Linked DNA regions of Homo sapiens. The protein of the gene in region 7 purifies or fractionates together with the protein of the main gene of each other region. This does not show direct contact. Each region holds a gene or a part of one and is shown on either strand. Other genes may lie near its edges.

Evidence for each region.
Region 1: the proteins of KATNA1 (region 7) and KATNIP purify together in Homo sapiens (tandem affinity purification; one large-scale study listed by IntAct). This does not show direct contact.
Region 2: the proteins of KATNA1 (region 7) and ENOPH1 purify together in Homo sapiens (affinity purification with mass spectrometry; one large-scale study listed by BioGRID and IntAct). This does not show direct contact.
Region 3: the proteins of KATNA1 (region 7) and SLC30A7 purify together in Homo sapiens (affinity purification with mass spectrometry; one large-scale study listed by BioGRID and IntAct). This does not show direct contact.
Region 4: the proteins of KATNA1 (region 7) and CCDC88C purify together in Homo sapiens (affinity purification with mass spectrometry; one large-scale study listed by BioGRID and IntAct). This does not show direct contact.
Region 5: the proteins of KATNA1 (region 7) and LDLRAD4 purify together in Homo sapiens (affinity purification with mass spectrometry; one large-scale study listed by BioGRID and IntAct). This does not show direct contact.
Region 6: the proteins of KATNA1 (region 7) and ARHGAP39 purify together in Homo sapiens (affinity purification with mass spectrometry; one large-scale study listed by BioGRID and IntAct). This does not show direct contact.

Annotation. Positions count from the first base shown.
Region 1 is NC_000016.10:27,738,409-27,742,858, reverse strand, and holds part of KATNIP (katanin-interacting protein), read right to left. Parts: intron 2,819-4,450; coding exon 1,939-2,818; intron 1-1,938. UniProt on the Homo sapiens protein: May influence the stability of microtubules (MT), possibly through interaction with the MT-severing katanin complex.
Region 2 is NC_000004.12:82,436,494-82,440,943, reverse strand, and holds part of ENOPH1 (enolase-phosphatase E1), read right to left. Parts: intron 1-4,450. UniProt on the Homo sapiens protein: Bifunctional enzyme that catalyzes the enolization of 2,3-diketo-5-methylthiopentyl-1-phosphate (DK-MTP-1-P) into the intermediate 2-hydroxy-3-keto-5-methylthiopentenyl-1-phosphate (HK-MTPenyl-1-P), which is then dephosphorylated to form the acireductone 1,2-dihydroxy-3-keto-5-methylthiopentene (DHK-MTPene).
Region 3 is NC_000001.11:100,978,547-100,982,580, reverse strand, and holds the end of SLC30A7 (zinc transporter 7), read right to left. Parts: 3' UTR 824-4,034; downstream 1-823. UniProt on the Homo sapiens protein: Zinc ion transporter mediating zinc entry from the cytosol into the lumen of organelles along the secretory pathway.
Region 4 is NC_000014.9:91,410,815-91,415,264, forward strand, and holds part of CCDC88C (protein Daple), read right to left. Parts: intron 1-4,450. UniProt on the Homo sapiens protein: Required for activation of guanine nucleotide-binding proteins (G-proteins) during non-canonical Wnt signaling. Binds to ligand-activated Wnt receptor FZD7, displacing DVL1 from the FZD7 receptor and leading to inhibition of canonical Wnt signaling.
Region 5 is NC_000018.10:13,650,781-13,653,976, forward strand, and holds the end of LDLRAD4 (low-density lipoprotein receptor class A domain-containing protein 4 isoform alpha 1), read left to right. Parts: 3' UTR 1-1,971; downstream 1,972-3,196. UniProt on the Homo sapiens protein: Functions as a negative regulator of TGF-beta signaling and thereby probably plays a role in cell proliferation, differentiation, apoptosis, motility, extracellular matrix production and immunosuppression.
Region 6 is NC_000008.11:144,682,713-144,687,944, forward strand, and holds the start of ARHGAP39 (rho GTPase-activating protein 39), read right to left. Parts: upstream 3,135-5,232; 5' UTR 2,974-3,134; intron 1-2,973.
Region 7 is NC_000006.12:149,616,862-149,621,311, forward strand, and holds part of KATNA1 (katanin p60 ATPase-containing subunit A1), read right to left. Parts: intron 1-4,450. UniProt on the Homo sapiens protein: Catalytic subunit of a complex which severs microtubules in an ATP-dependent manner. Microtubule severing may promote rapid reorganization of cellular microtubule arrays and the release of microtubules from the centrosome following nucleation.

The DNA.
Region 1 (4,450 bases), on a different chromosome or scaffold from region 7:
AGTTAAAGAAAAAAAGAAAAGAAAACTAGAAAAAAAAATGCATGCCTTGGCTTTGCATAGATATTTCACCAAGAGGCAGCATCACAGAGAGGGTGATGATGATGACAGAACAGCTAATATCTCTTGGGGGCTCCTGTGTGCCAGGCACTGTGTTAAATGCCCCACAAGTATGATCTCATTTATTCTCCCAGCACCCCATGTATTATTAGTGTCATTTTACAGAGGAGGAAACAGGCTCAGCAGGGTTTCAGAACCTGCCTGAGGTGTGGGTTGGAGGTGATGGAGCCAGGATACGTGCCCAGGCAGCCTGGCTCCAGGGTTTGTGCTCCCACGTGGTATGGGGTGGGGTTAAATCCAGAGGCTCTAGGGGTGAGCCCTGGCATGGCAGGCCTGAGTGTTCTGTGGATGGAAAAGGACCTCGTCCAAGCTAGTGGTGAAATAACGACTACTACTCACCGAGCACTCATCATGTCACAGGCTCAGTGTTGCTATTTGGAAGCCATCATCTCATTCTTTCCTTGCCACACTGGGTGGGGAAGTCATAACCATTTTACAGATGAAAACACTGAGGCCCAGAGAGTTGTGTGCCTGGCTAGAGGTCCCAGGTCTGTAAGCGGCTGAGTTTGGATTCAATGGTTTGACTCCTAGCTGCTATCCGTACTCTCCAGGAGCCAAGTCTGAGTGCAAATATTGAGACTCCCTGCCTTGATGGGCTCTCCTTTCATAATCAGGAATGCCCTTGAAGACCATCTAATCATCTACTGCAAAGTTCACAAAGCTCTCAGGGTGAGTCCTGCCAGCAGATGTGCCTTTTTTTTTTTTTTTTGACATATACAGTAGTTTAAAAATAATCTCAATCAGTTGCCAAAGTCAAAAAATAAGAAACATTTCTGGTTTCTCTTGAAAAAAGTAAAGAGGAGGTCTGGTACAGTGGCCTTGCATTCATTATTTTTTTTTGAGACGGAGTCTCACTCTCTTGCCCAGGCTGGAGTGCAGTGGCACAATTTCGGATCACTGTAGCCTCCACCTCCTAGGTTCAAGTGATCCTCCTGCCTCAGCCTCCCAAGTAGCTGGGATTACAGGAACGCACCACATGCCTGGCTAATTTTTGTATTTTTAGTAGAGTCAGGGTTTTACCATGTTGGCCAGGCTGGTCTCGAACTCCTGGCCTCAGGTTATCTGCCCGCCTCGGCCTCCCAAAGTGCTGGGATTACAGGTGTGAGCCATTGCGCCCGGCCTGGCCTTGCACTCCTAAATGCTTATTAGAAACCTGAGTGGAGTGGCAGCCGCCCTGTGGGTGGGCTTATGGTCTCCAAATTGCCAAAGTCCTCACTATTCCCTGTGCCACTTCCAACACTCAGGCAAGTGTCAATTGCTATGCATCATCACACTTGTGTTATTATTTTTTCTTTTTTTTCTTTGAGACAGAGTCTCGCTGTGTCACCCAGGCTGGAGTGCAGTGGCGCAATCATGGCTCACCGTAGCCTCGACCTCCTTGGCTCAAGCGATCCTCCTACCTAAGCCTCCCAAAGTGCTGGGATTACAGGCCTGGCCACTGTACCCAGCTATTTTTCTAACAGTACAGTTAAGGATAAAGTGAAGTGACTAGAGACCGATGTCTCTATGAAAGGCAGGAGAACAAAGTCTTTTGGAAAATGGCTTGGAAAAGCCATGTGTTGCAAGAAAAATGGGCAAAGGGACATACCTTGGTGGCAATGACAAATACATCTATGAATTTACCATGCAAAATGTGTCTTGCCCATTTCACTCATGTATGCATCTCTTTGGCCCCTGAGACAGTGATTTTGTGACCCTTAGTTGAGAACAACCATCTTGTTGTGCAGATAAGGAAACTGAGGTCCAGGAGCTAACTGGCTTCATGCCAATTAGAGGGGCTGGGATGATGATGCCCAAGTCGGGCTGCTCTTTGGAGCTTACCTCTGCTGGCTGGCTGGTCGTCCCCATGACTACTGCTGCCAGCATCCTTCCTTGAGCCCCTCCTCCCACTAGCAGGGCGCTCTCTGTTGGGGGGCTGGTTAAAGATGTCTGAGTCATCACTGTGGACTTTGGTGGTTGCCCTCTGGGGTCTCTCCTTGGTGTTGACACTCCGGCTGGTCCCCCACCCTGGCTCATGCCGTAGGCCTTTATCCCTGGCCTCGGTCTCTCCAGGACCCTCACCGATGACATCGTCTGATGGGAGCCTGCCCTTCCAGGCCAGGGGCTTCTCGGGACTAAGCCAGAGGGGTTTTGGCTTCCTGCCTCCCTGCTTCCTGTCCTTGCCGGTGGGAGAAGGTTGTAACCAGGATGGGGTTTTCCCGGGTGGCTCACAGATTTTTCTGCCCATGAGGTTTTCCAGTTGTTGGATGAGAGAGGGCTCCTCATGGACAGGAGGGCACTTCACAGGTGGGGAAGTGGCAGGAGCACTGGGCATGTCACCCATCGAAGTGGGGACTGCCGACAGTCTCAAATATTCCTCTAACTGGGACAAACTGTCTTTCCTGCAATTAGTAGAATTCTTTCTTTTGCCAGACACATTTCCTTGTGAAGAAAGCTTTGCATCCGCTAATGTTTCAGCTGGCGGTGAGCAACCGAGACCAAGCTCCTTGTCCCCGCTGGCACCAGCCATCTCATGGGTGCCTTTGCTTTCTTCCGAGTGAGCGTTCATGGCCTCCTCTAGTTGCTCGCTCTTCTCGTTCTTCTGGTCAACCAGGATGCTGTGGTCAGCTGGGGCCTCCCTATCTCCTTTGTCTAACTTGCCATTGAAGATGAGGTTTCTGTTGACGTAAAGCTTCACGTTCTTGGCACCAATGTCAAGATCCTGAAACCATAAGATTTAACAAAGTGAAGATGCATAGCATCAGACTGATGTATGAAATTTTGGAAGTCGAAGATACCAAAAAAAGAAAAGAAAATGTGAAATGCTAGAAATGCAAGCTTTTGAAAACCACAGTGCTGGGGGTGTGAAACTAGGCTTGGTCTCATTTCTGTGGGAACCGCTACATACTCTATAAATCAAAGGACTTTCACAAAGAGACGGCCTCAATCGCTGCCTTCGTCATCATTACCTCCTGTCGGGACATTCGTAATAGCCTACTAATGGGTCTCCCTGCTTCCTGTCTCTTGCTACTTTAACTTGGACTTCACATTGCCACCAGAGTTCATTTCCTACCAGAGCAAATCTGTCCAGTCATTCCCCTGTGTGAAATCCTTCATGTTTTTTCACAGCCTATAGCAGTGTTCTTTAAAGTCCAGTTCCTGAGACCATCTGCGTCGAAAAGCCTGGAGTGCTTATAAAACAGCTTTCCTGGCCTCCGTGGGCATCATAATTGGGAGACCGTAAAAGCAGAGGCTGAGACAAGGACTCGGGTGCAAGTCGAGTATTTGGCAGGTGATTCCAAGAGGAAATGGGGAAAGCAAGATAGGGCAGGAAAAAGGAAAAACCCAGTTTTTTTGAGCTGGTCACTGCTGTGGCCAACTGGTGCTCCTTCCCACGGGGGCCCTCTGCGGCACTCCAAGATCTCACTTTCCCCAACCCTAGTCTTCACCTATCTTAAAAATGGCTCCATCATTGAAGCAGTGGCCAAAAACCTCGTGGCCCCCTTGATCCCTCTCTTTCTCACTTGCCCATCCAATCCGCCAGCTGTCCCTCGCCTCTCTCTCCAGAACACTTCCTGGGTCTGACCTCTTTACCTGGAATGTGCTGCTGCCTTCCTTGCCCAGGCCACCAGGGTCTCTACCAGAGACACCACTGCCGCCTCCTAATTGGTCTCTCTGCTTCCACTCTGCGTTGTCTCCTCCAAATCCCTGCACTCACACTTCATTTTCTATGCAGCAGTGAGTTTTTTTTTTTTTAACTGAAATCAGATCATGGGAGTCTTCTGCTTAAATGCATGTCGCAAATGTCTCTCCAAGACTGGGACATTTATCCACTGCTTGTTGAAGGCTGCCCTCAGGGCACTGATGCCCCAACACATGCACGAGCTGAGTGTGCTCCCACGGCAGAGCACCCCACGAGCACCTGAGGCAGGGCACTGTCCACATGCGGGGACTGTCCCATGTTCACGGCAGCTGCAGTTGGAAGGGAGCCAGGAGGATGCCGTGTGAGGACCACTGCCTCAAGGCAGCCTGTAGGTAACTTCTGGACTCAGAACAAGTTCTCCGGATGATTTCTTCACACGACGGGGTGCAGAACCATGCCGATGATGGGATAAATTCCAAAGCTCTCCACATGACATACAGTAACCTTCACAAATGGTCCCCACCTCGCTCTCCTCTCTCACTGCCAGCCTAAATGCCCCTATGTCACGCAGGTTCAACTCTCTTCCTTCCATGCTTAAGATAAAATCACATCTCCTGCTACTGTTTCACTTGTGTCATCCTCTTTACAGCAAAACTCTTTTTCCAGCTTTATCGGGGAATAGAATACACACCCCATACAATAAACTGTGCA
Region 2 (4,450 bases), on a different chromosome or scaffold from region 7:
GAATTAAAATCCTACTGTCCTCGTCTTCATGGGAGTAAACAGGGCTGGACCCATACAAGGGGTGTAGGTTGAAAACTGAAAGCTTAGGAATGAACATCAGATTTCACATGTGCATTCAAAATGAATTAATCAATGTGGTGCTGATAAGACAAAAGATAGCCCCATTAAGGAGATTAAATTATAATTAACAAAAGATACACTGTTATCTAATTAAGTGCAATGAATCACACTGAACAAGGGATTGTTATCAGTACAAGAGGGCTAGTAATTGGAGTAAGGTTTTAAGAAGCAGCACAAAAGAAACAGAGTATCTCCAATGAGTTCCAGAAAGGGAACTTGACTGGCCCAGAGTCCTAGTCCTTAACAGTGGAGGGGAAAGGAAGGCATTCACATTCATCTCCTTGAATCTGCCTAACATCCCTGCAAAGTAAGCCTTCTTTCATAGAGGAAGACACTGAGGTTCAAAGAGGTTTCGCTGCTGGTGCAGAGTAAAGCCAGGACTCAAACCCAGGCCTATCAAATCCCAACACCTGAAGCCATCCAGCTCTCACGGGTGAATGACTTCAAGGAGCACTACTCACCAGGATCATCTAACTCCCTGGATCTTGACAGCATATTCTCTATGGAAATTTCTAATATAGCTTTGATTCCCCAAAGAGGTTTCATACAAAGAAAATGAGAGATTATGGTTCACCCAGTAGTTCTGTAACATTTCCTATAAAGTATCAGCAATAATAATTCAAGTAGTTATAGTAATGGGAGTAACTGCCAACATTTACTGAGCACTTACTATGACAAACACTTCTCTTTTCTATCTATAATCACTCCTTTGTGATCTTACCTAATTCCATGACTTTAAATACCATTTATACTAATGATCCCCAAATCCTTACCTTTAGCTTGGACCTTTTCCAAATGCCTACCCAATATCCCCACTTGCATGTCTATTCAGTATCTCAAACTAAACACATCTGAAACCAAACTCTTGATTCCATCCCTTAATCCTCCTCCTCCCCCTACATCTCCACATCACAGTAAATGACAGAACCATCCTTCCAGATGCTCAGGCCAAAAACCTTAGAGTCATCTTTGACTCCTCTTTCTCTCAAACTCCACATCCAACCAATCCATCAGCAAATCCCATCAGCTCTACCTTCAAAATATATTCAGATCCAATCACTTCTCACCACTGCCACCACCAAGCACTCAAAATTTACTCAACTTACTGATAATGTCATTTTAATCTTCATAATAACCCTGTGAAATTGGTGCTACTACTTCCTCCATTTTTCAGAGGCACATAAAGGTTAAGTACAAATTAACAAACTGAGATTATAGTTTACCAATCAGGTCTTTCTTTTTGAGTTTATAGAGTCAGATGCCTGGAATCTCCCCAGTATCAGATCGGGGGTAAAGATCCCACTCTTTACCCCCATCAAAGGGATCTAATTACCTTCCTGAACTTACAACGACTTGGACCCATACAAGACCAGTCCAGAGAGAGCTGGAGTAAGTATACACAAGCTTAACTGTCAAACACTGGTCTGATTGTGAGCTCCAAAGTCCCACCAAGGTCTCAATGCTGAAATTACCATTAGTTTCCAAACCGCATGCCTTAGTTTCTCTTTACTCAGTAAAGGGGTACCAGGTCCACACTTTTTAGACTTAAGAAAAGGAACTTGTTAGAAGGTCACATCATGAATCACTGGAAAGAAAATCAAGCTAAGAAATGAACCCCTCATGCACATACCTAGAAGGCAAACAACCCCTTTCTGTCCTAAAGACATTCTGTCTTTGAAAAGAAACCCATTTTCCTGAAATGGTATCACCTGGGAAAGGTCCAGAGAGGATCCAGGAGGGCCTCTGAGGATAAAGCTACCAACTTTCCACACGACTCTTTAGTGAGCTGATGGGAAAATGGGTGCAATAGGATTAGGGCAGGTTGGTTTCCACTCCTCTTCTGACCTGCACCTCCAACAAAACCAGTTTTGAAAATCAAATGAGTTGATAAATGTGAAATTCAAAGTTTCATATAAAAATAACCTTTTATTGTAAAAAAGAATACTTTGTTTTCTTTAGTGGAGTGGTAACACAGGGTAAGCTGCAAGGATAGAAAATTTTAAGACCCATCAGACAAAGAAGAAGTAAGCACTTTTCAGGGCTAAACACAGGGTATCATTTTAAAAGTCTGTATGAGCAAGATAAAATCCAGCCTATGTATTTAAAATATAGGGGTTATAGCTTAAAATCAGTGCCCCTTTTAAAAATTGTTATTTTTTCGATCACGCCACTGCATTCCAGCTCTGTCACCCAGGCTGCATGCAGTGCAGTGGCACAATCACACCTCACCACAGTCTCTACCTCCTGGGCTCAAGTGATCCTCCCACCTCAGCCTCCTGAGTAGCTGGGATTACAGGTGCACATCACCATGTCCAGCCAATTTTTTATTTTTTGTAGAGATGGGGTCTCCCTATGTTGCCCAGGCTGGTCTTGAACTCCTGGACTCAAGTAATCTCCTTGCCATGGCCTTCCAAAGTGCTGGGATTACAGGTGTGAGCCACCATGCCCAACCCCTTTTACTCAATAAGTCTGACTACATATCTTTCAAAGATCTGTATGACTTTACTGTGTACCTAGGGAAAAAAACAGAAGGAATATTCACCAAACTCTTAATGGTCACCTCTGGATGGCAGGAGCATATCAGGGCTTTCACTCTCTATATCATACTCTTCTTTGTCTGCAATTTTATAATCAGGGCGAACTAATTTTCTAGGAAGAATATTTGGGGGGGTAGAAAAACCTTTCCTCTAGTCTTACATTAACAGATGCAAGTTTCTATAAATAACATATTTCACTTTTTATCTTAATTTTGTTAATAAAATTTTCTCTTTTATGACATTTAATTTCCATTATCAGCTGGTTTCATCCTCTATAACTTGTAGGTTTTGGAAATGTTGAGTCAATGAATTCTAATGCCACTCTAGAAACACTTTCAGTTAAATTGTTCAAATATAATAGAGTACCACCTTGAGGAAATCTGAAATAGCAAGGATTGCAGAGTATGGAAGAAACTGAATCCCAGTCCCTCCCACACCCATTCCGGAATGCATATCACCATCACCCAGCATGTTACAGCATGCCTGATGTGTAAGCACTGTGTGAGGCTCTGGTCTCTGCCCTTGAGGAGCCTTCCACACAGCTTGAAAAAGAGGACACACATCCAACATCACAAGTCAGCTATTGGCTCCAGTAGCAAATACTACACATGGTACTGACAATGAGTTCAGAGGACGAAGAGAAAGGACTTTGAAATTCCTGCTTAAATAGGTCCTTTACAAGAAGAGGTAGCTCTTACTTCCATATTCCCACAGCTTAGCACAATAAGTAATTTTTTTTTAAGTTAATGAGTGCATGGGACCCACACTTGGAGACGAAAAGGTATGACATTCCAAGCTGGAAGAATGGTGGCAGCAAGAAAGGGCATGATTGGAATGTGCATGTTCAGCTATGTAAAGTGTAAAGAGAGGGATAGAAAGTTGGAAAACCCAATTTGTTGAACTCTCATCTCACAGCCAGTGAGAGACTACAGAGGACTTTGATTATGCAAAGGCGACCTATTTATGTAACTGTCTTCCTTTCTAGGTTCCCTGAGGAACCTGAGGGTGACAGCTGGGTCTTAAGGACTCTGGATCCCTACCATATCCTGGAACATGACAGGTATTCAATTAAATGTGAGGGAAAGGAAAGAAGGATTGATTAGGCTGGAAAGATTATGCTAATGCCACAATACTGAAGGTTCTAGAAAAATAAGGAACCAGAAATCAAAGTGAGAGGTGCTTTCTTTTTTTATAATTTTTTTTTAAGACAGGGTCTTGCTATGTTGCCCAGGCTGGTCTGAAACTCCTAGCCTCAAGTGATCCTCCAACCTTTGCCTCCCAAAGTGTTCGGATTACAGGGGTGAGCCACCATGCCCATACTGAATTATTTACTTAATGCAGATTCTTTGGGTTCCAACAACGATAGGATGATGATGATGATGATGACGACGATGACATATTCTGTGTGAGAGCAGGATGAACATGACAGTCCCAGCTTTAGGGAACTAACAGGTGGCTGGGTGAGCAGATTGTCTAAGGCTCATGTGGTAGGCAGCCCAGGTCTCCTGAATCCTAGGTGAGGTCCCTCCCAGCTAGGTGGGACAGCTTCCTCCCAGAGGCCAGAGGTGCTTTCTATCCACCATTTTTTTTTTTTTTTTTTGAGACAGGGTCTTGCTTTGTCATCCAGGCTGGACTGCAGTGGCACGATCATGGCTTACTGCAGCCTTGACCTCCTGGGCTCAAATGATCCTTCTACCTCAGCCTCCTGAGTAGCTGGGATCACAGGCACATGCCACTACACCTGGCTAACTTTTTTTATTTTTAGTAGAGACGAGGTCATGCTACATTGCGCA
Region 3 (4,034 bases), on a different chromosome or scaffold from region 7:
CGTTTTATGATAAGGGATTCAGGAAATGGAGGTGACAGGGCATTGCTTAGTTTTCTAAGAATTCTATGAAGAATTCCGACAAATTGGTAGTTGAGAATTGAATGGGAAAGATTTGTTTTCTTCAATTTTGAATTTGATATGCTGGTAGTTCTGCCATGAATGTGACGAGAAGCCACTGATGGCCTTGAAGCAACTTCTACGAAATAGGGAGGAGTGAAGCTATACTACTAGGAGCTATGGAAATGGTTAGAAAGGAGGTAGAAGCAGCAAATGTAGACCACATACAAGGAATCTGACAGCAGACATGCTGAGGATAAAGCCTTGAAGTATGGCAGAGATTGATGATAGTAAAGAAGCTGCTTTGGTAAGAATACCTTTGAGAAGGAAGGTGACATGAGTGGTGCATGGGATACTGTGGAAGAAGTTATTTTAAAAAAGAATTGCATCTAATCAGAGGGAAAAATTTGGAAGGATAATGGAGGCTCACATCAGATGTTTTGGTCTTCACGTCATATAAGACAAAGTCATCCATAGAAACTGAGATGAGAGAACAACTTGGGAGTGATGGAAATATCTGGAAGTAAATACTTCGAGACATGTTTATGAGGTCAGATGCTGACTAAGAGCCACAATGAGGCTGTTCACAATGTAAAGATACTTCCAACCTCCTAGCATCTCTTCTCTCCTAGTAAGTTCTGCTGTTTCTTGGCTCTGAGAATCATTCTTTGCCTTTCATTCCTTAAGTCCTCTAGTATCTATTCCAATACCTGTAAGATTCACAGTGTTTGTTTCAGTTCGTCAAACTGATAAGACACAATTCAGGTAGAGATTTTTAAATAGAAATTTTATTGAAAGAATTTTGATACAGTTCATGATTCTTTTTAAATACATATGAAGTTTAACAAAATATATACATGAATGTGTTCAAGTAGAAAATGTGAAATATACATTATAGATTTGTTGTATTGCACTTGGGCAAATCATAATTGCTCACTTCAGCATATTCAAACCGAATCACAACATAGTCTTTGAAAGTTGACATTATAACTTAGCCTTGTACTCAAACATTTTAAGAAATGTTTTGATGCCTTAATCTTCACCAAAGGAATCAAACCCAAATACTAACTTGGCCATATGTTTAAATACCACTAAAGGCAGGGAGGTAAAGTGTTGTAGGGTGCTTAAAATATACTAAGAAGGGATTTGGCAATTTTCCATTCACAGTATTTCCAATATAAAAGACTCATCCTATTTATCAAACTCACAAAAGTTGGGGGAAAATATCACTTGGGAAAAAATTTCACTGAATTGCTATCAAAGGAAGCAATGAAGTTACTTGACAAACTATTGACAGGATGTCTAGTTCAAAATAGAATCTTCATTGAGGCTAACTGTAGCACAGTATGTGATACATAAACAAAATTCAAATATTAAAATTCTAAATAAAAAAATTTTCCCCGCTAGTATAAAGTAGAAGTTCTATAGTGGAAATAACAATGAAAACAGATGAAAAATCAGTGAAGAAATAGAGGGAGGTACTACTAAAATTTTGTGTTTGAGAGGAAAAAGAGAAAGGTAAAAAATAATTCTGGGAATATTTAAATCAGTAATTGAATACATGTAGTGATGTCTTTAAAGCACCTTCAAGAAAGACCTCTTTCATTTTGGATGACAATACATTAGGATAAATGAAATATGTGAATATGGCAATTTTCCATAAAAACAAAGGAGACTATGGAGACTGTCTGGTTCCTGATTTGGCCATACAAAATATAGAAAATTCAAGTGACCCAGGTTCCACAGTCCCAATTCTGTCAAATTCCGATCCAACAATTTGTAAAATGGATAACATCTGTATACTTCCACTGTATATGAAAAAGAATGAGCAGCTCATAGGGCTACTTAAAAAAAAAAATGGCCAAGGTGAATATATAGTCATTTATTTGTGCAAAAATGCCAAAGAAATGCTGAGATGTCTTCTGTAAAAAACAGTAAATTACTGGTTTTACCTATCCCTAACCCTTATTTTTGACACAACTATCTAAAATGTTCACTAGTTAACCAAACATTTACTCAGCATGTGAATCCATGCTAAGTTTGAGGATAAAAGGATGCAGAAGAGAAAGATATTCTTTATTACAAGCTTTCCAACATCATGATCAAAATTACAAATAATTTTCAAGGCTGTTGTAAGAAGTCAACATTAAATGTTAAGTTTAAGCATAGATTACTACTATTTATGAAACAGATTTCTTCCTTTTGAAAGGTGTGTATAAAATGTGATGTAAATCAAATCTACTTATCCTTCTCCTGCAGTGCAAAATTACTTGTACTTTTGGGGAAGATAATTCCCTAATAAACTAAATTAAGGTCTCTTGGATAGAAATTCAGTTTCTCTCTTCATACAGCCACAAAGGGTACTATCTTTTCATTCAGTCCCTTAAGCAGCTTACTCTTCAATGCCAACAAAACTTTATTTTTTAAATAGTCTTAAAAGTGCTTAAGGGAGTTCTGGTTCCTCTTTTTAGCCTGCACAGTTTAAGATCAATGGTAAAGGTAGGAAATAATCATAAGGGCACTGGAAGAAGGAATGAGTCTAAATAATGTATAATGACTGTTCCGCCATACCAATTTTGTCATGGTGATTATTCACTAATTTTATAGGAGAGTGTATTGAGATCTGCTACAGCTTCTTGGATCTTTGAAGCACTGCTGAATTACATACACAAAGCAGAGCAGATGTCAGCACCTGATTAATCAGTACTCTACTACTGGCTAGATTCCCCAGGCAAGTCACTTAAATTATCTCCAAACAGCTTCCTCATCTGTAAAATAAGGATAAAAATTCCTTCCTCACAGAGATGTTATGAGAATTAGAGGAGATTTGAAAATGCTCCGTCAATCATAAAATCATGCAAAATTATTCCTTTGTAGAAATTTGAGGATTAAATGTAATAACATGAAGGCCACACTAACCGCCTGGCACATAAATACTTAATAAAAGTTATTCCCCATTCTCACTTTCTGTGTAATTTGCAGTTAGGAAATATAAATCAAAGACACCCTTGTCAGACTCACATCCATTTGGCTTTAACTAGAACTGTCCTTCCCTGCTCCTTTTCTTTTTTTTTTTTTTTTTTTTTTGGATACATAATCTTTCACTGTATTTGAGGCTATCTTGAGTCTCTGGTTGAGATCTGGGTCACTAAGGCTTCTGGGGGATCATGTCTTCAACAAGCCTTCCAATGAATGTCCAAAGAAAAACATATAATTTCCTTTTATTTTTTTTTTTACCAAAGTTCTTATGAATTGGAAAATAATTTGTTTCAAAGACGGTGATGAAAGGAAAAAAAAAGTTTAACTTTCCAAAGGTAATGCTTTCATGAAGAGTTAGAAATAGCAGTTTTAGTAATTAGTTGTAGGAATTCTGGTTAAGACTTCAACATTTTACCTTACTTAAAAGATTTGCTTTATGCAACATTTAATGCCCAGTTTTGCATGGCTCTAAAAATCTTTAAAATGCAAAAGCTTTTCCAGTGACTGGAAGCCAACACGACAAGAATGAAATGGTATGACCTGTGAATTAGCCTGGTTTATAAAAAAATACCAGTTCAGAGACCATAAACAAAATAAAGAAACTAAGCAATCCTTAAATTGGATTTAGCCTTGGGCAATTAGCAGAAAAATTCACTCATAAAAGGATCCATTTTACAGATATTGTTTTTTAAAATGTCAGGAACTGGTTTTATAAGAGTAAAAAAGTTAAAATTAATTGCATCTTCCATAAAGAATATGATGGAAATAATTATATACGAAAAATGAGACAATAAAAGTCCATTTATAAAGTGCCTTAATGTACCAAAAAAGGAGGTCAGATGTCCTTTATTTACAAATCATATTTAATCCCATTTACAGAAAGGCAAATATTACACTGGAGAGGCAGCATAATAGAGTATAAAGAACTCTCAACTTCGAGTCAGAAGATCTGAATCTTTTTGGCTTTGCCACTAATTTTCTCTGTGACTTTGAGCAAA
Region 4 (4,450 bases), on a different chromosome or scaffold from region 7:
TTGGTCTTTGTCATTGTAGACCCATCTTTCATTGAAGTCAGACGGGACCACCCCAGGAGTGGCCAGGAGCCGAAAGCCTCAGTATACATCGTGGACATCTCCAGCACGTGCAAAGGCATAGCATACACTCAGGGTCGGGAACCTGGGAGTCCCCTCACATCACAGCATAGAAGCCTCTGACCATCCCTGCTATTGTTCTCCCCAGTTCTTGCAAGAAATAGCTCACTGAAACAACTCTAAAAGAACCCTGACATTTACTGTATGAGTAATTAAGCTACTTACCGTGATTATTACGACTCCCTCCTTTAACTAAGCCTCTCTGGGTAGAGAGCTATCAGGACACTAATCAAAACAAAAGCCTCAACTACAGTTAAGGCAGGCACATCTCAATCTCCACTCTGCCCAGCACCCCCGTAACTCCCACCTTTCCATGCTGTACAAAATGGGAATCAAGAGACATGGGTTCTAGCCCAGGTCCCAAGCCCAGCCAAAGCTCACTGGGCTTCAGTGTTCTCATCTGCAAAATGGCTACAGGATCCTTCCGGCCTTCAAAGTCTATATGGTTCCATGAAGCCTACATCTGCAGTAGCAAACGTGGACTGTACTTGCTTCTGTACCACAGGAAGATGTTATTATAACCGCTAAACAACTGCACTTCCCCAAAAGTTGTCATTCAGAACAACAATCATCTTTATATGATAGTCCTAAAACTTAAAAGGCCAACACTCTAGTATCAGGATCTCAGAGGACACGACATAAATATGGTAGCTGGTCGGAACTTGGAGAGTTCCAAGAGTTCCAAGTCTAAAGTGTGGGCCCCCAGGGATTCCTTTTCATAAAAACTTCCAACTAGAAAAAAAGAAACTGGCCAAGCACGATGGCTCATGCCTGTAACCCCAGCACTTTGGGAGGCCGAGGTGAGAGGATCACTTGAGGTCAGGAGTTCGAGACCAGCCTGGCCAACATGGTGAAACCCTGTCTCCACTAAAAATACAAAAATTAGCCAGACATGGTGGCATGCGCCTGTAATCCTAGCTAATCGGGAGGCTGAGGCAGGAGAATCACCTGAACCTGGGAGGCAGAGGTTGCAATGAGCAGAGATCAAGCCACTACACTCCAGCCTGTGCAACAGAGTGAGACTCCATCTCAAAAAAAAAAAAAAAGGAAGAAGAAAGATAACCAATTCTTGCTAGAATTTTAAAAAGAGTTATAATTTAGGCTTACAGTAACCTTGCCCCCCTCCTTTGGGAAAGCCAGCCCCCAACTTTTGGTCATATTCCAAAAACTTCCTAAATTTAAAGCTAAATCAAGAAACTATGTATTGACACAGAGAGATATCCCTAATTTATCACAGGTTAAAAAACATGCTAAATGTTTTTATATATGTTTAATGTATTTTTATACAAATATGGACCCATGCTAAAAAACAATAGCAAGAGTCCATATTTGTATAAAAATATTAATACATTAAGGACACGTATTAATATATATCATAGATAACATTCGGAAGGCACTAGAATATTGACATTGCTACCTCCACATGGTAAAATCACAGGCAAGTTTTATTTTGCTCATCTGTATATATTCCTATTCTCCTAAGATGAACATAGTTTGTGTATTTTTTTCTTTTTTTTTTTTTGAGATGGAGTCTGGCTCTGTTGCCCAGGCTGGGTGCAGTGGCACAATCTTGGCTCACTGCAAGCTCTGCCTCCCGGGTTCATGCCATTCTCCCGCCTCAGCCTCCTCAGTAGCTGGGACTACAGGCGCCCGCCACCACGCCTGGCTAATTTTTTTGTATTTTTAGTAGAGACGGGGTTTCACTGTGTTAGCCAGGATGGTCTCGATCTCCTGACCTTGTGATCCGCCCACCTCAGCCTCCCAAAGTGCTGGCATTACAGGCGTGAGCCACCGTGCCCAGCCTGTTTGTATAATTTTTAAGGACTCAAAGCCCCCATGTGTCATATACTGCAGCCAAAAGATGGAAATTACTTAAGTTCATAGGTAAAAATTGTTTTTTCCCAAGATTTTTGCGCCAATACAAATTCATTCAACCAACAAGTAAAATTTCCCCTTTTATCCTAAGCTTCTACATCTGCAAAAGGGAAACATAAACTCTCCTTCAAGTGCACTGGGGTAAAAGTTATCCTTCAAATGCTTTTTGGGAGGTAAAGAAACTCTCCTATTTCCCCGAGGATGTTTCTAACCTATGAATAATTAACACAGTATCCTGAATTTTGCAGCTAGCACCAGGGGTCACAAGCAGCCTGAACAAATATGGTTGAACTTAAAGGGCACAAGCTCTCAGCCCTAGTACCAAGTTCCAACTTTAGCCACTGCGTCAAACCGGATGGTTTACTCTCACAAGTAGAGATGTACAGCACTAAGGGCATGGGTACACGTACGTATGTCCACACACAAACTCAGATCTGGGCCTCATCTGCACAATGATAGACATATGTTAGGCTTGTTCTATATACATAGTTTTATTTAAATCTCCCCCAAATTGGTAAAATACCATCCCCTTATTACAGATCAGGAAATCAAGGCTTAGAGAGTTTCAGTCATTTGCCCAACATAATAACACTAGGAAGTGGCAGAGTGGGGATTTGAACTTGTCTGCCTGATGCTAGGGTTAAGGCTCTTAAATAATTTTCCTACAAGAGAATGAAAAACGTGTCCAAAGTTAACCAGAGCAAACTTTGTTTTCTCTTGGGTGCTGGTAGGTACCCAAGACACTGTGTTGACAGAGGGGCTATTGAGCAGGCATTCCCAGGCCTCTCCATCCAGGCCACTCAAAGCCTCAGTTTCATTCATGAATTCTCCTAGCCCTGGGCCTCCCCAGAAAGCTGAACCTGTGGGGCTTCCCTGCTTCCAGGTGCTGATGTCACCAGGAGACCAGGGCCGAGAGACTACTAACAGCCTTCTCCGGTTGCCGGAGACAATGGCCAGGTGCAGTCACGTGACCCCCAGCCAACCTCCACAAGGCTCCCAGGTGTTAGGTAACAGCCTCTTATCTGAGCTCTGTTAGCAGTACTGCTCAACGCGATTTCTTCAGGTCCTACAAACTTGGGGTGAAGGAATCAAAACAGGCAAATAGCACAGTCTAGGAGCTACTGGTATGGGAGATGAGGCAGAACAGCCTTACCCCTTACCTGCTGGCTAGTGACATGTTGCCATTTGGTAGAAGTGAAAACAGAGGCTTAAGTGCAGTACAGTCTAAATGCGGGGCTAGGACTTGGGTCCCAGGGTCCAATGTTGCCCTAGACCTCATTGGTAGAGGGCTAAGGGCTGAGAACTGTGGGGTAATCCAAGGATCGAAGAATGTGGGGGAAAAGGTAGGCCACACAAAAAAAGAACTTTTAGTTGGTGCCTCAAATCCTTTCTGGATTAAGATGGCACCTACATAGGCAAATAGCTAAATGTTAACACAAGGTTTCATTCTGTCCTCACAACCATCTCTTAAGGAAGGTACTTTACGTCCCATTTTACAGATGAGGAAACTAAGGCACTGAGCGACATGCCCAGTGTCACACTGCTGGTAAAAGGGAGGCCAAGGGTTTGAATCCCAGCTGGCTATGTAGGCTGTCCGATACAGGCCAGGGTTCATTGTTTAGTTGAGGTAATTTTACATAGCATGAAATGCATAAAGTTATAATTTGAGGAGTTTTGGAAAATGAAACATACTCCAGCCACTCTGCAGGACATTTCAACTACCCTGAAAAGGTTCCCCCGGGTCCTTTCCAGTCAATCCTCACCACTTCCAGACACAAAAACACTATTCTGACTTCTATCACCTGGAACTGGGTGATTCTGATGACCCATGCAGGAAACCATGCCCACCCGCTCTCTCTTCTCTTTCCTCATTCTGGAAAGCCAGCCATTCAGCCTCCCCACGCTCCATTCCTCTGTGCCCAACTCATCCTGAGGGACCCAGAAGCACTTCTTGAAGTCTTAAGAGCTACAATTTACCAGTTCCCACTTCTGGAATGATTACCTTGGCATATCACAGAGAGAACATCTAAAATTGCCCAGGGAAGGGGAGAAACCCTCCCACCCCACACCACCCCGGCCGAATTTAGCCATGGGCCAAATGAGAACAAGTGATGAGCTGGCGTTTCTCAAAGGAACGGTCCAACAGGCTTTCCTGATTTACAAGCAAGTGGGAAACGCTTCAGGAATTCCAAAGGTCAGGGAAGAAAGAGAAACAGTCCCAGTGCTTTTGTTCCCCCCTCTGCCTGGGTGTAGGAGCTGAATGAAAAGGCTGGGGATACTGCTGGTTTTTTTAATTAAACAGTCTTGGGCTTGGGTAAGGACAGGTTGAAGTTTCACCGGTCATTGCGCCAATGGAATCCAGTAATTTTCAGGGTCTAACAGAATGAGGGGAGAGTGGCCAGAACTCGAATATGCCACGAGACAGCTTCCGGAAAACTCAGTTTCAACAAAGTTATCT
Region 5 (3,196 bases), on a different chromosome or scaffold from region 7:
TTTGTCCTCTTTTGTAAGGAAATTTGCAAATGGATGCATACAGATTAAAGTCTATGTAGTTTATTTTCCTATTAAATATCAATATTATAACACAAGAGAAAGAAGTGTGAACAAACAAGCAACAGTTTATGACCAGCGTATATATAGCAATGGAAAGTTGCATCTTTGCTGTGAAAACACTTTAAAGAAAATACTTTTTAAAAAATCCCACAGCTTTTTGGTTGCCACTAGACGCTTCTTATTTTAATCATTTTAGTAATGCTCAGCTGGACCAGTGTTAGTTATATTTGAGTCAGAAAAATGTTGTTTTTCAACTTGCTTTATAATCTCCTGCATCTATCTCCTGCTGTAGCATCACGAAGGTGTCAGGCAACAGTGAAAAGTGCACATTTTTGTTGTTGCAGAAACTGTGTCAGAGGAATAAGTAAATCAGCCTGCAGCAGAAGACTTTGTTCAGCTCCAGAGGCATCTGTGACCGTCTGTGTCCAAGTCTCTCTGTGCCTTTTTCTTTTACAAACTGAAGCTGTGGAGCCAATGAAGTAACAGTAGAGATTGTAGGGAAAGAATACCTCAGGAAAAACAAATACACTTACAAGAAGACCCTGTTCTTAGAAAATGTGTTTAGTTATGGGTTAGCACTAGAAGAGACTTGGCTGTCAGCCAGCCAAGTGAAGGACCTCTCATCCATTCCCATTCATGTCCCATCATAATACGGACCCAAAAAGCAAACTCGGTTTTGCCATCAGTTAGAAATTACGTTTTGGATTGTATATTGTTACATCTCTCTTCCGGCTTAGTTTTTAGTGTCTGATTGTGACCTCTGCATTTATCTTCAAATACCCTAATTTTAAAACAAAAGAACAAGAAAAGTTTATAACACCATGTTCACTAAAACCACGGTTGAATCTTGGGTGTGGGCATCCTTTCGAGTGTTGTCCATAAGAGCAGTTCGTGGAATTTTGCCCATCTGACCCATATTATCAGCTTATTCTGCCACCAGAGTAGAGTCTAATAAATTCCAAAGTTTTTATTTGCTCCATGGTGTATGTTCTGACTTTGAAAATGTCAGATTCTATAATCATACCCCTAACATCCAGGAAACAAATGACAGATTATCTTTAAACTGAAATTGACTCTACAATGCAACCCTTAATGCTGAATGGATTAAAAAAGTCAGCCCTTTTAGTATCTGTTTGAAAGGGCCGTAAAAAGTTGACACTTTTGTTGTTGTGGATCCTGCGTGTCTAGACCCACGTGTTGTTTCCATCGTATACTGTAGGGTGCACCCCTTGGGATTCATCATTAAGAACTGAGGCTCACTGTTGTCAGAAACAAAGCTCCCACCCCCCAGGTTCAACCTTGTGGGAGAACTGTTGAGCATGAGAATGTTCTAGACTCAGAGGTACTAAAATTTGTTACCACATCATTGCTTCCTTTCTACAGGACGAATTGAGGCTTAAACTTTACTGTTAATGATACTGGTTCATTTTAATGTGCTTGTTGGTATGTTGCTATTTTTCATTTCATAGCTTTCAAAAATCATGCTAATTGTATACTTGTCTAGTTTAAGGCTATTTTAAAATATGTACAATACTATTCACAGCATTTAGTTCGTTTAATTTTTATTATAAAGCAATCTACTAAAAAAGTACAACTGTATTTGAACTTTTCAATAGTTGTTTGTGAGCTATGATAATCAAAAGTCATTAAAGTCTTTTTTAACAAACATTCGTGCTTACTTTTCAACATAATTCCCAGTTATATACAGAAAAAGATTTCCACCTGTCACGTATCTGCCTCTTTTACCTGAGCAATGGTGTAGTTCTTAGACCTAAGGTCTGTAATTGCAATACTTTTAAAGAAAGATGTTGCTCTAAGTGCTGTTTGTTAGTTATGAAATCAGATTTTTCTGCTTGTTCTTAATGCTGTGGTCAAACCATAGCACAAAATCATTAAAAATAATCAGCGGCATACATTTGTCCCTTGGGTTTTTGTTTTGTTTTTCTTTGTCTTTCAGCAACAAGGCACATGCATGGGGAAAATGCTGTGTGTTTTAAGACCTGTCTCAAAGAAATACTTCCTGTGGCTCCCTAGCTAAACTTCCCACTCAGCTTGTAGTCACTCTGACTTTTCAAAAAAATCACTACTTCATATTCTACTAGAAGCAATTCTGGTCAGATCATGATTCGTTTCCCAATGCTGGGTTCTACACAGGTCATTCAGACAGTCATCAGGTCCCCTCATGCAAGGAGTCCCCAGAGAAACTGCTCACCCCACCTGAGGCGCCCAGGGAGGACTTTCTAGATGCCTCAAAAAGTCTTTGGGTGGCTGTCACACAAAACCGAAATGCTCAGCCCAAAATATGAACAAGATTCCTAACAATGACAACTATTCCACAATGGAACAGACCCCCTCAGTGTGTGTTTTAAACTCCTTGGCATTGGAGGTCTCCAGTCAGTGATAATGTAACAACAGAGAGGCTCTAAATTTCCTACACCGAGAGACTAGAATAGTATTATCTCTATGCTCTAAATAAGAATATGGGTTCACAGATGATGACTGTGTGTGCATAAAACCCCACACGATCTACCAAACTACTAAAGTGGATTTAGCATGGTTGCAGGATATGCAATTTATTTTTGCATTTCTATGTACTTATAATTAGCAAATGGAAACTGAAATTTTGAAAATACCATTCAAAATGGTATGGGCCCCAAATTCTGGTATGGGCCCTAAATTCTAATGGTACATCCATTTTCGATTCTGAATTAAATTCTTTCTTTAAGATTATTTTGGAAAGGGGATTTGAAGAGAGCTATAAGAAGGAATAGAGCAATAGGAAAGTTTCTTTCCTGTCAAACAGCAAATAGTCACTAATTAACCACACCACACTCTGGAATAAATTCTGTAATCTCTGAATTTAGCAAACCATTAGAGAAATATTAAAGATACCCCCCAAATTTGCTAACGCTAACAACTATGCAAACTTTGTTCCTGCAGACAGCTCTGCACAGAAGGAATGAGGGGAATCCAGGCTTGGGATCCCTGCTTATGCAGACCATAAGCAGCAAATCCAGTAAAACCTGGGACTGGCTTCTCACAACGGAGACACAGGGCTCCTCTCTCCCCCACTGTCCCTGGGAGGCTGTACCAGCTGTCACTTTAGAAGCTGTCTCAGAGCCAAGGATGTGGGAAC
Region 6 (5,232 bases), on a different chromosome or scaffold from region 7:
TATAACAACAATGGCAGGCTGGGCACAGTGACTCATGCCTGTAATCCCAATACTTTGGGAAGCCAAGGCAAGTGGATCACTTGAGCTCAGGAGTTTGAGACCAATCTGGGTGACATGGCAAAACACATCTCTACAAACAAAACCGAACAAAAAAATTAGCCAGGTGTGGTGACACACACCTGTAGTCCCAGCTACTTGGGAGGCTAAGGTGGGAGGATGCCTTGAGCACAGGAGGTCAAGGCTGCAGTGAGCCATGATCGCACCACTGCACTCCAGCCTGGCCAGCAGAGTGAGACCCTGTCTCAAAAACAAGCAAAAACTGGCTGGGCGCGGTGGCTCACACCTGTAATCCCAGCACTTTGGGAGGCCGAGGCGGGCGGATCATGAGGTCAGGAGATCGAGACTATCCTGGCTAACACAGTAAAACCCCGTCTCTACTAAAAATACAAAAAATTAGCCAGGCGTGGTGACAGGAGCCTGTAGTCCCAGCTACTCGGGAGGCTGAGGCAGGAGAATGGCATGAACCCAGGAGGCAGAGCTTGCAGTGAGCCAAGATAGTGCCACTGCACTCTAGCCTGGGCGACAGAGCGAGACTCTGTCTCAAAAATTAAAAATAAAAATAAAATAAAATAAAATATTCTTTTTTTTTTTTTGAGACAGAGTCTCGCTCTGTCACCCAGGCTGGAGTGCAGTGGCACAATCTTGGCTCACTGCAAGCTCCGCCTCCTGGGTTCAAGCGATTCTCTGTCTCAGCCTCCCCAGTAGCTAGGACTACAGGCGTGAGCCACCACACCCAGCTAATTTTTGTATTTTTAGTAGAGACGGGGTTTCACCATGTTGGTTAGGCTGATCTTGAACTCCTGACCTCAAGCGATCTGCTCGCCCCAGCTTCCCAAAGTGCTGGCATTACAGGTGTGAGCCACCGCACCTGGCCATTTTTCTCTAAGAACGTCTTAAAACAATCTTATATAATAATTCATCTAAGTATGTGAGGCTTGTCTCTCTTTTACCTTTATAAACATGTGTTCATCCAAATATGACCTCAGCTTTCTTGTGTGAGAAACCAGCGCCACAGACTTCCAGCTTAATGTAAACTTCCAGTTTACATTACATTGGCAGTGCTGGAGAAACTGAAGACCCACTGACCCAGCACATGCACCCCGGAAGCACCAGATCTTGGCAGTAATAACCATTCCTAACTTTCTAAAACACAGTGTGCCACGAACAAAGTGTTTCACAAGTCTTAATTTACTGAGTCCTCACAACAACCCTATGAGGCCAATATTATTAGTGTTCCCATTTTACAGATGAGAAGCCAAAGGCACAGAGACCTTGCCGAAGACCACAAAGCCAGTAAACAGAAGAGTCGCGACTCAGAGGCGGGCAGCCTGGCTCCAGAACCCGCCCTCCTGTCCACTCTGCTCCCCTGCCTCTCAGGAAGACAGCTGGCTACACCAAGTGCAGGGAGCGAGGCGCCACCCCCATTCATTCACTCCAAGCATTTATGGCTACAGAGCCTGCGCCCAGGGCGGTTTATGGAATGAGTCTCCTCGATTTACAGCCACACCTCCTATCAAATCGCCTTTCCCTCCCCCGGCGCGAGAATCGCACCTTGCTCCTTGTGGATCGGGCGCCGCCGACGGAACCACCTGCTGTCTATAGAGGGCACCTAGGACGCAGCGTCCAATTCCCCTCACTGGCTTCAAAAGACAAATCTCCGTATTGTTGTACCAGGAGGCACGAGAAGCCTCACCACTGTAGGTTTTTCAGCAGAGGTCACTGGAGGTCTGGTTAAACCCGTACAGCACTGAGGGGGAGGGGGCCCGGCTGCGTTTCCGAAGCTGCGCAGCGCCCACAGCAGCTGCTGGTGGGAAGCGGCTCGGAACACACCCACAGCTGCCAAGGAGCCGGCTGCACGTTTTAAAATAAAAAACGTCCTGGGCCCCAAAATGCACAGCCCGCCTCTCTCGCCGCCCTGGGCACGGAACGCCGCCTCCACCCACAGCACTCCAGCAACTGGGAAGCAACCGGGAAGCAACCGAGGGAATTCCAGCTCGGGGGGCAACCGGGAGGGGAAGGCTCCGAGCGCCGGAGCCCCAGCCCGCGCCTGCCGCAGAGGCGAGGCCGCAGAGCCCACCCGCAGGCGGCCATGACCCCACCTGGAGACGCCCATGTCCGCTCCCTGCGCCCCGGGGACAAAGCCCGAGGCTGCACCGCAGCGCACCGCAGCCCTGCACCCGGGCCGCCCTTCAGGACGCGGGCACCAGACCCGACCGGCGGGCATCCACCTTGTCCCCACTCCGACGGCGCCCGGGAATGCGGCCGGTGCCCCGAGCTCAGGCTGGGCACACGTGCACCCACACCCACCACGGGCGGGGTCCCCTCACACCCCCCTCGGGCAGGGGCACACTCACACCCATCTAGGGCCGGGCACACTCACACCTCCCTCGGGCAGGAGCACACTCACACCCCCCTGGGGCCGGACACACCCACACTCCCCTCGGGCCGGGCACACTCATACCCACCGTGGACAGGGGCACACTCACACTCACTCTGGACAGGGGCACACCCACACCCACATTGGGGCCGGGCACACTCACACCCACCTAGGGCAGGGACACAACTCACTCTGGACAGGGTACAGTCACACCCACTTCGGGCCGGGCACACGCGAACTCACCCACCCTCACACTCCCAGCCCGGCCCGTCGGCGCGCACCCGGGCCCCGCGCGGCCTCGGCCCCTCGAGCCTCCGCGCCCCCCGCCCGGCCGGGCCCCGCACACCCACGCCCCCTCCCTCCACGGCCCAGTCACAGCCCCTCCCGCCGCTGCAGTCGCCGCGGGCCTGGATTCCTTGCGCTGCCGGGCCTGGAGCCTCCGCCGAGGCTGGGCCAGGACCACGGGGACCGCAGCGCCGGCCCCTCCGCCATCTTCTTGGCCCGCGCCGCCCACCGCCCGTTGCCCGCGCTCTCACCGGCCGGCTGCGCGCGGGCCGCGCCGCCACAGTCCCTCATCCCGGCCCGCGCGACGCGCGTGAGCCAGCCGCCGCTCCCCGGCCTCTCTGCTGCTCCGCCGCTGCTGCCGCGGCAGCCCGTGCTGTCGGCGTCCTCCGCCGCCGCCGCCGGCCCAGTGCGCGGCGGCCGCGCGTCCTCCCGTCACCAAGCGCAACCCCCCGCCTCCGGCTCCGCCCCCGCGGCGGTCACTACCCGCCGCCAGGGGGCACTGCCTCGCGAGGCCGCATCACGCATGCGCTGGCGCGCGGCATGCCGGGAGCCGGAGTCCCGCGGAGGGCGCGCGCGGCATGCTGGGAGCCGCCTGGCCCCGCCCCGTCGCCGCGCCAGAGGCCTCCCGCGCGGACCTACCCTGTGAGTTAGCGGTGTCTTCCCGTCTCTTTCGGTGCAGAGCAGTTACCATCTGACACGTCTCGGTGTGGTTTGGTGTAATTTTGCCCTCTCAAACCACGTTGGGCTTCCCGAGTCTGAGATTTCACTTTTCTTCGACTCTAGAAATACAGCCATTCTTCTCAAAACGTGGGCTGCCCTGTTCCTCAGTCCTTCTTGTGGCGGGCTCGTGTCTCTTCACCTCCTGTTATTCTCACCTTTTTAGTCCTGTCACTTTTACTCGGTAATTCACTCAGCTGCAGCTCGACTAGTGCTCTATTCGGCGTTTTCTAATCTGCGTTCAGCCTGGTTTTCTAGATTCTCTTAGTGCCAGGTGCGTTTCTGGAAATTGAATCTGACTGGCATTTCTGGAGAAACGGAGGCTAAACAGCCTGAAGCTTCGATAGTAGAAGACAGGGGCGCACACCCTTCAGTCCTGGACATTCCCTGGGTCCTCAACTGTGAGAAGCCGCAAAGGGCTGAAAGGCCCCCGTCAAAAGTCATCCGTGGAGCTCCACCTCCTGCCCTGCAGCTCAGTCGCCTTGCAGGGACTCTCCCGCCTCAGGAGATCTCCCGTCGGGCTGTCTCGCCGCCCGCGCTTCCCTGTTGGGCCGTCGTCACACTTCACTCTTCACTCTTATACACAGGGCTCTGCTTTTTCGCCTCCCGCTCCCTCTCCACTGTATTCACTTAGAAAACCCAACTGGGCGAGCCCAACCCTTCTCCTCCATGACTGCTGAAGAAAATCACACATCCAGGCTGACTGCCTTCACCTTAAACTTGTGACAACACACTGGCGGCGAGCACTTCCCACCCCCGTGACCACACACTGGCGGCGACCATTTCCCACCCCTGTGACCACGCACTGGCGGCGAGCACTTCCCACCCCCGTGACCACACACTGGCGGCGACCATTTCCCACCCCCGTGACCACGCACTGGCGGCGAGCACTTCCCACCCCCGTGACCACGCACTGGCGGCGAGCACTTCCCACCCCGTGACCACACACTGGCGGCGACCATTTCCCACCCCCGTGACCACGCACTGGCGGCGAGCATTTCCCACCCCCGTGACCACACACTGGCGGCGAGCACTTCCCACCCCCGTGACCACACACTGGCGGCGACCATTTCCCACCCCCGTGACCACACACTGGCGGTGAGCACTTCCCACCCCGTGACCACGCACTGGCGGCGAGCACTTCCCACCCCGTGACCACGCACTGGCGGCGAGCACTTCCCACCCCTGTGACCACGCACTGGCGGCGAGCATTTCCCACCCCTGTGACCACGCACTGGCGGCGAGCACTTCCCACCCCGTGACCACACACTGGCGGTGAGCATTTCCCACCCCGTGACCACACACTGGCGGTGAGCACTTCCCACCCCTGTGACCACACACTGGCGGTGAGCACTTCCCACCCCGTGACCACACACTGGCGGTGAGCACTTCCCACCCCGTGACCACACACTGGCGGTGAGCAGTTCCCACCCCGTGACCACACACTGGCGGTGAGCACTTCCCACCCCGTGACCACACACTGGCGGTGAGCACTTCCCACCCCCGTGACCACACACTAGCAGTGAGCACTTCCCACCCCGTGACCACACACTAGCGGTGAGCACTTCCCACCCCGTGACCACACATTTACAGTGAGCACTTCCCACCCCTGTGACCACACACTGGCGGTGAGCACTTCCCACCCCGTGACCACACACTGGCGGTGAGCACTTCCCACCCCCGTGACCACACACTAGCAGTGAGCACTTCCCACCCCGTGACCACACATTTACAGTGAACACTTCCCACCCCGTGACCACACACTGGCGGTGAGCACTTCCCACCCCGTGACC
Region 7 (4,450 bases):
TTCAAAGCAGCATTATTCACAAAAGCCAAACAGTGACAGCAACCCAAGTGTACATCAACAAATGAATGATAAACAAAGCATGAAATATATATGCAATGGAATAGCACTCAGCCTTAAAGAGGAAGGAAATTTTGACATACTACAACATGGCAAAATCCCTAAAACACTATGCTAAGTAAAACAAGTAAGTCACAAAAGGGAAAATACTGTATGATTCCACTCAGATGAGGTACCTCGAATAGTCAAATTCATAGAGAAACAGAATGGTGGTTACCAAGGTCTGGGATGAAGGGGAGAATGATAAGAATGATGACTTTAATGGGTGTAGTGTTTCAGTTCTGAAAAATAAATAATGTTCTGTGGATAGACAGTAGTGATGATTCCACAACTAGTGGAACATGTGAATGTACTACTTAATACCACTGAACTGCACACTTGAAATATTTTAAATGGTAAATTTTATGTTATGTATATTTTGCCACAACTTTTAAAAAATAAATAATTTTTAAAACTCAGTTGAATTTCTATAGCTTAACAATTAACATACAGACTGAAATTAAAAATACATCACTGTTTACAATCATTACAAAAATGAAATACTTAGGTATAAAAGCTAACAAGACATATATATGACATGTGCTAAAAACTATAAAACACTGGCCAGGCGCAGTGGCTCACGCCTGTAATCCCAACACTTTGGGAGGCCGAGGCGGGCGGATCACGAGGTCAAGAGATCGAGACTATCCTGATCAACATGGTGAAACCCTGTCTCCACTACAAATACAAAATATTGCCAGACGAGGTGGCTCACGCCTGTAATCCCAGCACTTTGGGAGGCCGAGGCAGGTGGATCACCTAAGGTCAGGAGTTCGAAACCAGCCTGACCAATATGGTGAAACCCCGTCTCTACTAAAAAACACAAAAATTAGCTGGGCATGGTGGCCTGCGCCTGTAGTCTCAGCTACTTGGGAGTCTGAGGCAGGAGAATCGCTTGAACCTGAGAGGTGGAGGTTGCAGTGAGCCAAGATCGTGCCACTGCACTCCAGCCAGGGTGACAGAGTGAAACTCTTGTCTCCAAAAATAAATAAATAAATAAATAAATAAATAATAAAATAAATAAATAAATAAATATATATATATAAAATTAGCTGGGCATGGTGGCACATGCCTGTAGTCCCAGCTACTCGGCAGGCTGAGGCAGGAGGATCGCTTGAACCTGGGAGGCGGAGGTTGCAGTGAGCTGAGATCGCACCACTGCACTCCAGCCTGGTGACAGAGCAAGACTCCATCTCAGAAAAAAAAAAAAAAGGAAAAAGAAAGAAAGAAAAAAAATTGGTTGGGCACAGTGGCTCACTCCTGTAATCCCAGCACTTTGGGAGGTTGAGACGGGCGGATCACCTGAGGTCAGGAGTTCAAGACCAGCCTGGCCAACATGGTGAAACCCCGTCTCTACTAAAAATAGAAAAATTAGCCGGGCATGGTAGTGGGCACCTATAACTCCAGCTACTCAGGAGGCTGAGCAGAGACAATTGCTTGAATCCGGGAGGTGGAGGTTGCAGTGAGCCGAGATCCTGCCACTGCACTCCAGACTGGGTGATAGAGCGAGACTTCGTCTCAAAAAAAAAATAAAAAAAAGAAATAGAAAAGGAGAACCACAAAAGACTCCAAAGAGATCCTGAGCAAAAGGAACAAAGTTGGAGACATCACACTACTTGACCCTAAACTGCAATGCTCTAGTAACCAAAACAGCATGGTACTGGCATAAAAACAGACATACAGACCAATGGAACAGAATAGAGAATCCGGAAATCCATGTATTTACAGTCAACTGATTTTCAACAAAAGCACCAAGAACATACACTGGAGCAAGTGCAGTGTTTTTAATAAGTGGTGCTGAGAAAACTAGATATCCATTTGCAGAAATAAGGAGCTAGACCCCCTAACTCTCACCATATATAAAACCAACTCAAAATAAATTAAAGATATAAACGTTTACACCTGAAACTATGAAATTATTAGAAGATGATGTAGGAGAAATGCTTCAGGACATTGGTCTGGGCCAAGATTTTAGGAAGACCTCAAAAGCACAGGCAACAAAAGCAAAACTAAACAAATGTGATTATATAAAACTAAAATGCTTCTGCACAGTAAAGGCAACAATTAAAAGAATAAAGAGGCAACCTGTAGAATGGGAGAAAATATTTGCAAACTATTCATCTGACAAGGGATTAATATCCAGAATATACAAAGAACTCAAACAAGAGCAAAAAACCCCCCACAAATAATCCAATTAAAAAATGGGTAAATGAATTGGAATAGACATCTCTCAAAAGAAGACATATAAATGGTCAAGAGGCATATGAAAAAAAAATCCTCAATGTCACTAATCATCAGGGAATTGCAAATCAAAACCACCATGAGATACCATCTTGCCCTAATTAGGATGGGTGTAAGCAAAAAGACAAAAACTGCTGGGCGTGGTGGCTCACACCTGTAATCACAGCACTCTGGGAGGCTGAGGCAGGTGGACTGCCTGAGCTCAGGGGTTCGAGACCAGACTGGGCAACATGGTGAAACCCCGTCTCTACTAAAATACAAAAAATTAGCTAGGCGTGGTAGCGTGTGCCTGTAGTTGCAGCTACTCAGGAGGCTGAGGCATGAGAACTGCTTGAACCTGAGAGGCGGAGGTTGTAGTTAGCCAAGATGATGCCACTGCACTCCAGCCTGGGCAACAGAGTGAGACTGTCTCCACAAAAAAAAAAAAGACAAAAACTAACAAATGCTGGTGAGGATTTAGAGAAAGAATTCATATACAAAGTTCTTGGAAATGTAAGATGATATAGCCACTATGAACAGTATGGAGGTTCCTCATGGGAGGAATAGGATTAATGAACATAGGAGTGCAGATATGTCTGACATATTCATTTCCCTTCCTTTGGATATACCCAGAATCAGGATTGCTAGATTATATGGTAGTTCTAGTTTTTGTTTTTTAAGGAACCGCCATACTATTATAAACACTATTCACAATAGCCAAGACATGGAATCAACCTAAGTTCCTATCGACAGATGAATGAATAAAGAAACTGTGGCATGCATATACATACATACATACATACATATATATGGTGAAATACTACGTAACCACAAAAAAGAATGAAATTCTGTCATTCATGGCAACATGGATGAGTTTGGAGGATATCATGTTCAGAGAAATAAGGCAGGCACAGAAAGATAAATAACACATGTTCTCACTCATGACGAAGCTAAAAAAGTTGATCTCATAGACGTACAGAGTACAATAATGGTTACTAGAGGCTGGGATGGGTAGGGGAAGGTGGGTGTATCAGACATTGGTTAACAAATACAAAAGTACAGCCAGATAGGTGGAATGAATTCTAGTGTTCTATAGTGCTATAGGGTGACTGTAATGACTATTATTTTTTAATTTTTTTGAGACAGAGTCTCACTTTGTCTCCCAGGCTGGAGTGCAGTGGCGCGATCTTGGCTCACTCCGCCTCCCAGGCTCAAGCAATCCTCCTGCATCAACCTCCCAAGTAGCTGGGATTACAGGTGTGTGCCACCACCCCGGCTAATTTTTTTTGTATTTTTAGTAGAGACAGTGTTTCACCATGCTGGCCAGGCTGGTCTCGAACTCCTGACCTCAAGTGATCTGCCCGCCTTGGCCTCCCAAAGTGATGGGATTACAGGAGTGAGCCAACATGCCCAGCCAGGTGACTGTAATTAAAAACAACTTATGGTACATTTTCAAATAACTAGAAGAACAGATTTTGAATATTCCCAACACAAAGAAATGATAAATGTTTGAGGTGATGGATATGTTAATTACTCTGATTTGATCATTACCCATTGTATATGTGTATTGAATTATCACAGTGTACCCCATAAATATGTATGATTATTATGTGTCAAATTAAAAATAACAAACAAAAATTTTTAAAAACCAAAGCAACATCTACACTCAGCTTTTATAATTAATATAGAAGCAACACTGGCATTAGAAAATTATGATTTTGCAGTCAGTGCAGAAATAGCTGATTCAGACAAGAATCACTGGGTGCTAAAACTAGCAGATGAGATATTGATGAGAAACAGAGTATTTACATAGTCTCAAAGTACTTCCCACAAATTATTACAAGGGTCAAATGGTAAGTTTATTGTGGAGAGACCAAGCAGACACCACCTAACCAAGCGATCCAACTTATCACCAGTAATAGGACAAACAGAAATCCTATGCCTTCTTTTTTTTTTTTTTTTTTGAGATGGAGTCTCACTCAGTCTCCCAGGCTGGAGTGCAGTGGCGCGATCTTAGGTCACTGCAAGCTCCACCTCCCGGGTTCAAGCCATTGTCCTGCCTCAGCCTCCCCAGTAGCTGGGACTACAGGCGCCTGCCACCTCGCCTGGCTAATTTTTTTGTATTTTTAGTAGA